Regions from separate parts of the Homo sapiens genome. Here region 2 is linked to region 1. Evidence: fine-mapped expression QTL. Tissue or cell type: whole blood. Region 1 holds a variant in brackets; the other region holds the start of a gene. All regions are shown on one strand. Distances are from middle to middle.

The links. PIP is the estimated chance that this variant, and not a neighbour inherited with it, causes the effect.
Region 2: RAD50 starts here. The variant in region 1 is fine-mapped to the expression of RAD50 in whole blood (TOPMed, PIP above 0.99). The same link has a PIP of 0.9 or more in fibroblasts.

What each region holds. Positions count from the first base shown.
Region 1 is chr5:132,593,205-132,598,204 of GRCh38, forward strand. RAD50 (RAD50 double strand break repair protein) reads left to right here. Exons shown (of 25, transcript NM_005732.4): 12 at 1,665-1,840; 13 at 2,369-2,606. Among named protein-coding and RNA genes, the nearest start is that of RAD50, 39 kb to the left of the region's middle. The variant G/A (reference allele first, on the strand shown) is at 2,072.
Region 2 is chr5:132,554,036-132,559,035 of GRCh38, forward strand. RAD50 (RAD50 double strand break repair protein) reads left to right here and starts at 2,942. Exons shown (of 25, transcript NM_005732.4): 1 at 2,942-3,418. The coding sequence starts at 3,290. It also overlaps a transcript of IL5 not described here. RefSeq lists an enhancer at 2,565-3,225.

The DNA.
Region 1 (5,000 bases):
ACCCACACTTCACCATAAATTTGATACTTGTTCTTGCTTCAGTTTAATTGGGGCTCTTTTCAAACTGATGTCTTAACCTTGTTAGTGCCTTAAACTAGATCCTATTCAGACATGTTATAACAAGTTAGTATGAGTTTGTTTCAGTGCAAAACATTTTGAACTTCATGCATAGTTTTTTTTATAATACACATTTTCCATGAACATTTTGAAGACCCCTCATATTTTGCAAATTAAGTAAAATGGTAACGGATAGTAATTTAGGCCTCTTGTCCCTTGAAAATTTGTAGACCTATGAAGATTAAAATTTAAAAATTCTATTTTCATTTCTGTGAGTAATCCATTATAAAAAGTGATCATGTTTCTCAGATGTTACCTTGGATAGTGGTTGGATAAGCGGGTCAAAAATTCCACACAGATTTTTGAGGAAAGTAGAAGGACTTGGCTTTGGTGGTGTTTAATCTGTGTTTCTTGTGGAAGTATCTGTGAGGGAATACAATATTGGAGTTTGAAATTCAGGAGATTGGAAGTTGTTGCTATGTAAGGGATACTCAAAGTCATTAGTATGTCACCTTGAGAGAGTTATGCAAAGGGAAGGAGTTACAATTAGATTCCTGGGAAGCACAAACATTTAAAATGTTAGCAGGCAAAGGAAAAGGAGCAAGTGAAGGAAACTGGGATGTGCCCAGGGAACCAGGGTGAGAGCCAGATAGCTGTGGTGTCTAGGTGCCTTGGGAAAATAGTCTTCAAGGAGAAGGTCAACAGTGTTTGGTGCTACGTAGAGGTAGAGTAAGATGAAGACTGTACTTGGCACTTAGGTCACTGGTGATCTTGATGAGAAGTGCTCAAGGGAGTCTAGGATAATGAAAATATCATCATATTAGTTACTTTTTTCCAAATGTTTACTGTGACTCAGGATGGGTAGTCATGATGAAGAAGCATGTGTGCAGTCACACACATTTATCTGAAACAAATTTCTCAAAGTAGTACATATACATACAGCCTACTCCAATATATTACCGTCTATTCTGTTTCATTTTTAAAAAATATGCTGAATACATTAAATTGATTACATGGTAGCTAATGCATCTAAACCTGCAAATTGAAAAACCATGTTATGTGTGAGTATTGAGGTTGGCTAGGATGATGTTTAAGAATTAAAGTGGGGATAAATTGTACTAGTAAGCAAAATCTTTGATGAATGAGAGGGAATGACTGATCTGGACGCAAGTGGATGACAGCAACAAGGAGGGGGAGGATACAAAAGAAACAGTATTTACAGGAGAGTAAGGAAGTAGTATTTGTGAAAGGACTAAAGGGAATTACGGGGATGTTCTCTTGTCTTCTTTCTGTCCAATAGTCCTAGCAAGCATCTTGCTGAGGCTTAACCTGGGATCAAAGACCATGAACCCCCAGAAACCAGGCAGAATTCTGTGTACATTTTTCTGGGAGCAGGCCCATGAGTAGGACTGGCAGGTGAGTCAGTGTCCTAGGGGGAGAGTTAAGGCAGAAGTGGACTAGTCCCTCAACTTCTGAAAAAAATTATTTGGTCATACCAAACTCTTGTCATGATTTGTTGGCAGAATTTGTCTTGTTTTTGCCTACTCAAATTTTCAAACTAATTTCTCCTATTTTAAAATGAAAATCCATATTTGCTCTTATTTTAGCAAGGAACTAGCTTCATCTGAGCAGAATAAAAATCATATAAATAATGAACTAAAAAGAAAGGAAGAGCAGTTGTCCAGTTACGAAGACAAGCTGTTTGATGTTTGTGGTAGCCAGGATTTTGAAAGTGATTTAGACAGGCTTAAAGAGGAAATTGAAAAATCATCAAAACAGCGAGGTAAGTTGTCTACTTTATATTATCAGGATACTTTGACACCTTTGAATTTTCATTCACAGGTAACTGTTAAGGATGGGGAATTTAAAAACCTGGTTATGGAGCCTAATGGCTTGGATTTCAGTCCTGGCTCTACAACTTACTCACTGTGTGACTTTAGGCAAGTTACTGAAACCTTCCTGTGTTTCATTGTCTATAAAATGAGGACACAACTACCACCTGTGGTACTGAGGT[G/A]TGAATGAGATTGTAATTATAAAGCCCTTAGAACAGTGCCTGGCACATAGAAAGCTCTCAGTAGGCATTTTGTTATACTTATAATGTGTTACCAAAAAATATTTATACAAATCTGAATGTATCATGCTCTTTGGAAGCGAATATCGGAATTTTAAATATCAGAATTTTTATTTCTTTTATAATATATTTATAAAGCAAGAATAATCATATATTTATAGAAAAAGATACAACCGTATTCAGAATACTGTATTTTATGTTTTTTTCTCATTGGTGATATAATTTATTTTCTTAAAATAGCCATGCTGGCTGGAGCCACAGCAGTTTACTCCCAGTTCATTACTCAGCTAACAGACGAAAACCAGTCATGTTGCCCCGTTTGTCAGAGAGTTTTTCAGACAGAGGCTGAGTTACAAGAAGTCATCAGTGATTTGCAGTCTAAACTGCGACTTGCTCCAGATAAACTCAAGTCAACAGAATCAGAGCTAAAAAAAAAGGAAAAGCGGCGTGATGAAATGCTGGGACTTGTGCCCATGAGGTAAGAATGGGATTTACCTTCACTGTACATGTAGCAGCACATTGTAAAAGGTACCCATCTCATGCCTGGGCAGATGGTAGTTACTCAGTAAGGACTCTGAGCTGGTATGCCCTGTCTTATATCACTTCTATGATAAGAAGATTCAATTATTTTGTTTAAAGATAAGCTTGTTTCCTGTCTTTTTTTCTTTTTCTTTTTTTTTTCTGAGACAGAGTCTCTCTCTGTCACCTAAGCTGGAGTGCAGTGGCATGATCTTGGCTCATTGCAACCTCCACCTCCCAGAAGCGATTCCCATGCCTCAGCCTCTTCAGTAGCTGGGATTACAGGCATGTACCACCACGCCCAGCTAATTTTTGTAATTTTTAGTAGAGATGGAGTTTCACCATGTTGGCCAGGCTAATCTCGAGCTCCTGGCCTCAAAGTGATTGGCCCACCTCGGCCTCCCAAAGTGCTGGGATCACAGGTGTGAGCACCGTGCATAGCCAGTAAGCTTATTTCTTAAACTATGAGGTAGACACAGTCTTTACGTTCTTTTGTATGTGTGTTTAATTCCCAAGACTTAGCTTGTGGGCATAGATTTTCACAGATTTAGGACTGTCTGTTGACATGCCACTTTCTGAACCCAGCAAAAGAATTTAAGTATTGAAAAGTTCTCCCAGAAGACAGATTTTAAACTATGTTTTTAATGTCTTTTCCACTTGCTAAAAGAATGAATCATAGATGATTTTCGGTTGTTTATATTTTCCATCACTTATACAAGAAATTCGTGTTATGTTCTGTTTACAAACAAAAATCAAGTCAGGAAATATGTGATGATTGCCTTAGTGTCTCCCAGAACATAGAGAACAAGGCTAGTGCCAGAGACCTAAGACATGACCCTCCAGGAGCTAATGGTCTGATTAAGAAGACAAGCTCTCAGAATTCAACATTTAGAAAGCTAGGCTTAATAAAGTGCTTAAAAAATGATTCAAACAGATGTGTTAGGTAAGAAGGGAGGAGCCAATGGATACAGAATGAGAAGAATATTTTGAGAATGAGGCAGGAAGAGGAATATAAGACCTGGAGAAGTTCATTCAGCTCAACTGAGAGGAGACGGAAGTCAGAACACGGTGCAAAGGGAAGAGGAGTATGACCTATGCTGCAGTAGAAATGTTATCTGGAGTTTGGGGAATTATTTATAGGGATTGAGTCCTGTATGTTGGGGAGATAGGGCTACATTATATTCAGGTCTAGTTGTAACTCTGATAGGTGATGAGGAGCCAACCTAAGGGAGTTAGTGAAAGATGTATTTTAGGAAAATTAATCTAATATTAATATATTGACTGAAACAGGCTGAGAAAAGCTCAGGAAGCAGAAAAACCAGGAGAGTGAAAGTGATTGTCCTGGAAAACCAAGGAGGAGTTTCAGGAAAAGGAGAAAGAAAGGCCTAAGAAGATGTGGTTTGTGGCAGCCAACTTCTAAGATGGTCCCTAGTAATCTCGGCCTCTTGGTATTTATACTCTTGTATAGTCCCATCTCATGCTGTTGCATGATTGGTCTATATAACTGATAAAACAGGCAGAAGTGATAGCATGGCCTTTCCAACATTAGGTTATTTAAGGTACTATGGCTTCTTCTGTTCTCGCAATGTGCTTGTACCCTTGTGTGAACTCGCTCACTCTCCCCCACTCCTCCCCTCTCTCACTCACTCTGTCTCCCTCTGTCTCTTGTCTGAGGGAAGCTAGCTGCCATGTTGCAAGCAGCCCTCTGGAGAGGCCCATATGCCAAGGACCTGAGGCCTTTGAGCAAGTGAGTTTGGAAGCAGACTTTGTAGCAGTCAAGCCTTAAGATGACTGCAGTCCTGGCTGACAGCTTGATTGCGACTTCATGCGAGACCCTGAGTCAGAAGCGTATCTCTTGATCCTCATATCTCTGAGAAATAATAAGTGCTGTTATTTTAAGCTGCTAAGTTTTGGGATACTTTGTTATGCAACAATAGATAACCAACACAAGCATCAAGGGTGAAAACCAGATTATTGGGGCCACAGAGATGAGGAGACAGAGGCAGTAGTTTGAGAATAAAAAGGAAGGAGAGGAATAAGGTAGTATCTTGAAAAGAAAAAGATCAAATGGATAAAATTTGAAATTGGTAGAAAGTACACGTAGTAGAAATATGAGCTTAGTTCTGTGTTAGACTGTTATACAATAAATGGCAGAAATTAACATCGTATTATATTTTAGGACCCTAGCTATCACGGCTCCTTTTTTTTTTTTTTGAGACAGAGTTTTGCTTTGTCGCCCAGGCTGGAGTACAGTGGCGCAGTCTTGGCTCACTGCAATCTCCACCTCCCCGGTTCAAGCAATTCCCCTGCCTCAGCCTCCCAAGTAGCTGGGATTACAGGCGCACGTCACCAG
Region 2 (5,000 bases), 39 kb before region 1:
TTACTGTATGTTAATTATGCTTCAATAAATCTGACTTAAAAAATGGTCTTGGCCAGGCGCAGTGGCTCACACCTGTAATCCCAGCACTTTGGGAGGCCGAGGCGGGTGGATCACAAGGTTAGGAGTTCGAGACCAGCTTGACCAACATGGTGAAACCCCGTCTCTACTAAAAATACAAAAAATTAGCCAGGTGTGGTGCCACGTGCCTGTAATCCCAGCTACTCAGGAGGCTGAGGCAGAAGAATCACTTGAACGCGGGAGGTGGAGGTTGCAGTGAGCCAAGATCGCACCATTGCACTCCAGTCTGGGTGACAGAGTGAGACTCCATCTCAAAAAAAAAAAAAAAAAAAAAGTCTCCACTTGAATAGTCAATTATTCAAAGATACACAAATGGCCAATAAACACATGAAATGATGCTACTAATAATTATTGAAATGCAAATCAAAATTACAATGAGGTATCACTTCACACTCATCAGGATGGCTACCATAAAAAAACATAAAATAACAAGTGTTGGCAAGCATATGTAGAAATTGAAACCCTTATGCACTATTGGTGGGAATGTCAAATGGTACAACCACTGTGGAAAACAGTATGGCAGTTCCTCAAATAATTAAAAATTGAATTACTGTATGATCTAATAATTCCACTTCTGGGTATATACCCAAAAGAATTGAAAGCAGGGTCCAGAAGTGACATTTGTACACCAATATATATAGCCACACTATTCACAATAGCTAAAACGTGAAAGTAACCCAAATGTCCATCAATAGATGGATAAGCAAAATGTGATGTGTATTGTAATGAATCTTATTCAACCTTAAAAACGACCTGAATTCTGATATATGCTACAGTGGTCCCCAACCTTTTTGGCACCAGGGACCAGTCTCACGGAAGACAGTTTTTCCACAGACAGGAGTGGGGTGATGGTTTTGGGATGAAACTGTTCGACCTCACATCATCAGGCATTAGATTCTCATAAGGAATGGGCAAGCTAGATCCCTTGCATGGGGCAACCTACATCTTTCTCATGGGCAGTTCAAAATACGGTTTGTGCTCCTATGAGAATCTAATGCCCCCACTGATCTGAGGCCCAGCTCGGGTGGTAATGTTCACTCACCTGCTGCTCACCTCCTACTGTGCCACCAGGTTCCTAACAGGCCAGGTATGCATACTGGTCAGTGACCCAGGGGTTGGGGACTGAGCTGCAACATGGATGAACCTTGAGGACATTATAAGTGAAATGAGCCAGTCACAAAAAGATAAATACTGTATGATTCCACTTATATGAGGTACTTAGTAAAAAATTATAGAGACAGTAAGTAGAATGTTGGTTGTCAGGGTTTGGAGGATGTGGGGAGGAAAGGGTTATTGTTTAATGGGTAGTTTGTTTTGCAAAGTGAAAAGATTTGTAGAGGTTGAAAGGTGGTGACGGTTGTACGTGAGTATACTTAACACCACTGAAATGTACACTTGGTTAAGATAGTAAATTCTTTTTGAGACGGAGTCTCGCTCTGTTGCCCAGGCTGGAGTGCAGTGGTGCGGTCTCGGCTCACTGCAAGCTCCGCCTCCCGGGTTCATGCCATACTCCTGCCTCAGCCTCCTGAGTAGCTGGGACCATCGGCGCCTGCCACCATGCCCGGCTAATTTTTTGTGTTTTCAGTAGAGACGGGGTTTCACCGTGTTAGCCAGGATGGTCTTCATTTCCTGACCTCGTGATCCACCCGTCTCGGCCTCCCAAAGTGCTGGGATTACAGGCGTGAGCCACCGCGCCTGGCCAAGACAGTAAATTTTATGTGTATTTTACAATTTTTAAAATAAAAAAAGGTCTTTCGTCTTTTCCCATTGTTTTATTACATTTGCTTTGCCAAGTAAGACATTCCTATATAATTTTAATGTTTTGTTCCATTAGTTATTTTAACTATTTTGTAATAACTGACACTTTCCGGTTTTTTTTAACCTGGTACAGCAAGAGACTATTTCTCACTGGTCTTCCCCACTTGCATCCTTTGGCACATACATTTATGTATTAGGTTCTGTAAATTATTTGCTTGGGATTGTATGACTGGAGAAACATTTCCTACATTTTTCCAAGGCAGGCAGAGGCAAATTATACCACTACAGTAATTCCAAATTTGTGTTTCATTTAAATGTCCTCCACTATTGTTTCAGTAATTTTTATGTATGTTTCTCTAGGCCCTTAAATGTGATATCCCTCCATTAAGTTTGTTTCCAAGAAAGCAATATTCTCAGTTACTTCTGAGACAGGTAACTTCTCTTTCCCTTATTTTTAAAGATATCTATTGCTGGGAGCACTGATCGGAATGGATTACCTCTACATTCTTCATATTTGCAGACTGCTTTTAGTTTTAGTTCCCAGACTTTTGGTCTTAAAGACGCCTTTACACTAAAAAATTACGGGGGACCTCAAAGAGCGTGTACGTGAGTTATAATTATCAACATTTACTCAATTAGAAATTAAAATTGGTATTTCTAAGCGCAAGAATACACATGCGCACATTCCATTAACCGCCACTGCAATGGCGTCATCACATGTTATGTGATCACTGGAAATTACTACACGAACGTTAGAGAGAGAATGAGAATGAAAAGGAAAATAGTTTTGACACGAACTGACCCCGCTTCCTGGGTCTCCAATCCACCCCACCACTACCCCCATTCCAGGAGTCCCAGGATCAAGCTTTGGGAAGCGCCATCCGTCACAGGTCTTGGTCTCCCCTTCCAAAAGTCAGTGCCTCTCCAGGCTGCCCATCCCCAGCAAAGATCCGGAAGTCCGCTGCCCCTGGCAACAGCACCCAGCACCTAGCCCTCTGCTTCGCCGTACCGCACCCGGAAGTCGGAGCTGCGCACGCACCGCGGGACTCTGATTTCCCGGCGTGCCCCAGGAGAGCGGCGTGGACGCGTGCGGGCCTAGAGGCCCACGTGATCCGCAGGGCGGCCGAGGCAGGAAGCTGTGAGTGCGCGGTTGCGGGGTCGCATTGTGGCTACGGCTTTGCGTCCCCGGCGGGCAGCCCCAGGCTGGTCCCCGCCTCCGCTCTCCCCACCGGCGGGGAAAGCAGCTGGTGTGGGAGGAAAGGCTCCATCCCCCGCCCCCTCTCTCCCGCTGTTGGCTGGCAGGATCTTTTGGCAGTCCTGTGGCCTCGCTCCCCGCCCGGATCCTCCTGACCCTGAGATTCGCGGGTCTCACGTCCCGTGCACGCCTTGCTTCGGCCTCAGTTAAGCCTTTGTGGGCTCCAGGTCCCTGGTGAGATTAGAAACGTTTGCAAACATGTCCCGGATCGAAAAGATGAGCATTCTGGGCGTGCGGAGTTTTGGAATAGAGGACAAAGATAAGCAAATTATCACTTTCTTCAGCCCCCTTACAATTTTGGTTGGACCCAATGGGGCGGGAAAGACGGTAAGTCTTCAGTAGCCGCCTTCAGTTTACAGGTCGCTACATCTTTCGGAGAATAAAATGGGAAGTTGAGAACTCTCCTTAGGAGCAGAAGCGTCCCTAGGGCTCCACAGGTGTAGGCCCTTAAAGTGCCTTAGGGTGTGGCCTGCAGGCTACAGCGACCTTAGGAGTTTGCCTGAAGCAGTCTCGGAAGGATGTCCGGACCTGGCCTGGGGACAAGGTTTACTTAAGAATCCCACGATACCGGGAGCTGTCGCCGCTCACTCAGAGTTCAGTTCCCACTGGATGCCCTTTGGTCTGTATTGATGTTTTTAACGCTGTCTCCTTGCTTTCAAAGCATAGCATTCACTTCCCAGTAGTTGTCCCATACAAGAATTCCTTTAAAAGTTATAAAATGATACATACATGACTAAAGAGTTTCCAAGTATGCCAACTGTCCAGACATAATACATGGAAAATAAATAAATTCAAAATGTAACTGATGTAGTGGGGCTTAACTTGGAAAACTTCTCTTCTTAAAACTCAGTCAAAAATTTAACGTTGGTGCACGACTGACTTTTTTTTTTTTTTAAAGCCGTGGGAATATTTATAAATTTGAATGGAAAGAATAACCAAGAGGCATTCTGGTCAGGAATAGTGGCTTAAGAAAAAGCAAGACGATGTCAGTATAGCAGGGAGAAGAGTCTAAAGGAAGGATTTGTGAAGAGTGTAGAAAGAGAGAAGGTTGAGAATTGAATGCCAAACTTGTTTACTTTTGTTTTTGTAAAAATGTTATTTGTTGAATGCTTGTTATGTACTTAGGATTGTACTAAATACTAGCAGAAGGGAGAGTAGTACTGTATAGTGTTTATGAGGACTGGCTGCCTCAATACAGCTTTTTCGCTTCATTTATTAGTTGTCTGATTGTTTGCGAGTGACCTCACTGCTCTGTGCCTTAGTTTTCTCATTTATAAAATGGAGATTAAAAATAGTTTCTACAGCTGGGCACGGTGGCTCACGCCTGTAATCCCAGCACTTTGGGAGGCCGAGGCGGGTGGATCACCTGAGGTCAGGAGTTCGAGACCAGCCTGGCCAACGTGGCGAAACCCCATCTCTAATAAAAATACAAAAATTAGCCAGGCGTGGTGGCGCATGCCTGTAATCCTAGCTACTGGGGAGGCCGAGGCGGGAGAATCGCTTGAACCGGGGAGGTGGAGGTTGCAGTGAGCCGAGATCACGCCATTGCACTACACCAGCCTGGGTGACAGAGGGAGACTCTCTCCCCCCACAAAAAAAAAAAAAAAAAAAAAAAAGTTTCTACAGGCTGGGCATGGTGGCTGACGACTGTAATCCGAGCCGTTTGGGAGGCTGAGGCTGGGGGATTGCTTGAGCCCAGGAGGTCGAGAGGTCGAGGCTGCAGTAAGCCATGATCATGCAGCTGCACTGCAGCCTGGGCAGCAGAATGAGACCCTGTCTCTTAAACAAAAAGTTCCTACAGCCTGGAGTTAATGTGAGAATTAAATAAATGTATGTAAGAGTGCTTAGTACAATACAGTACTTAACTGTTAGCCATTCTTATTATTAACTTAAATTAGTTTAAAGGGTT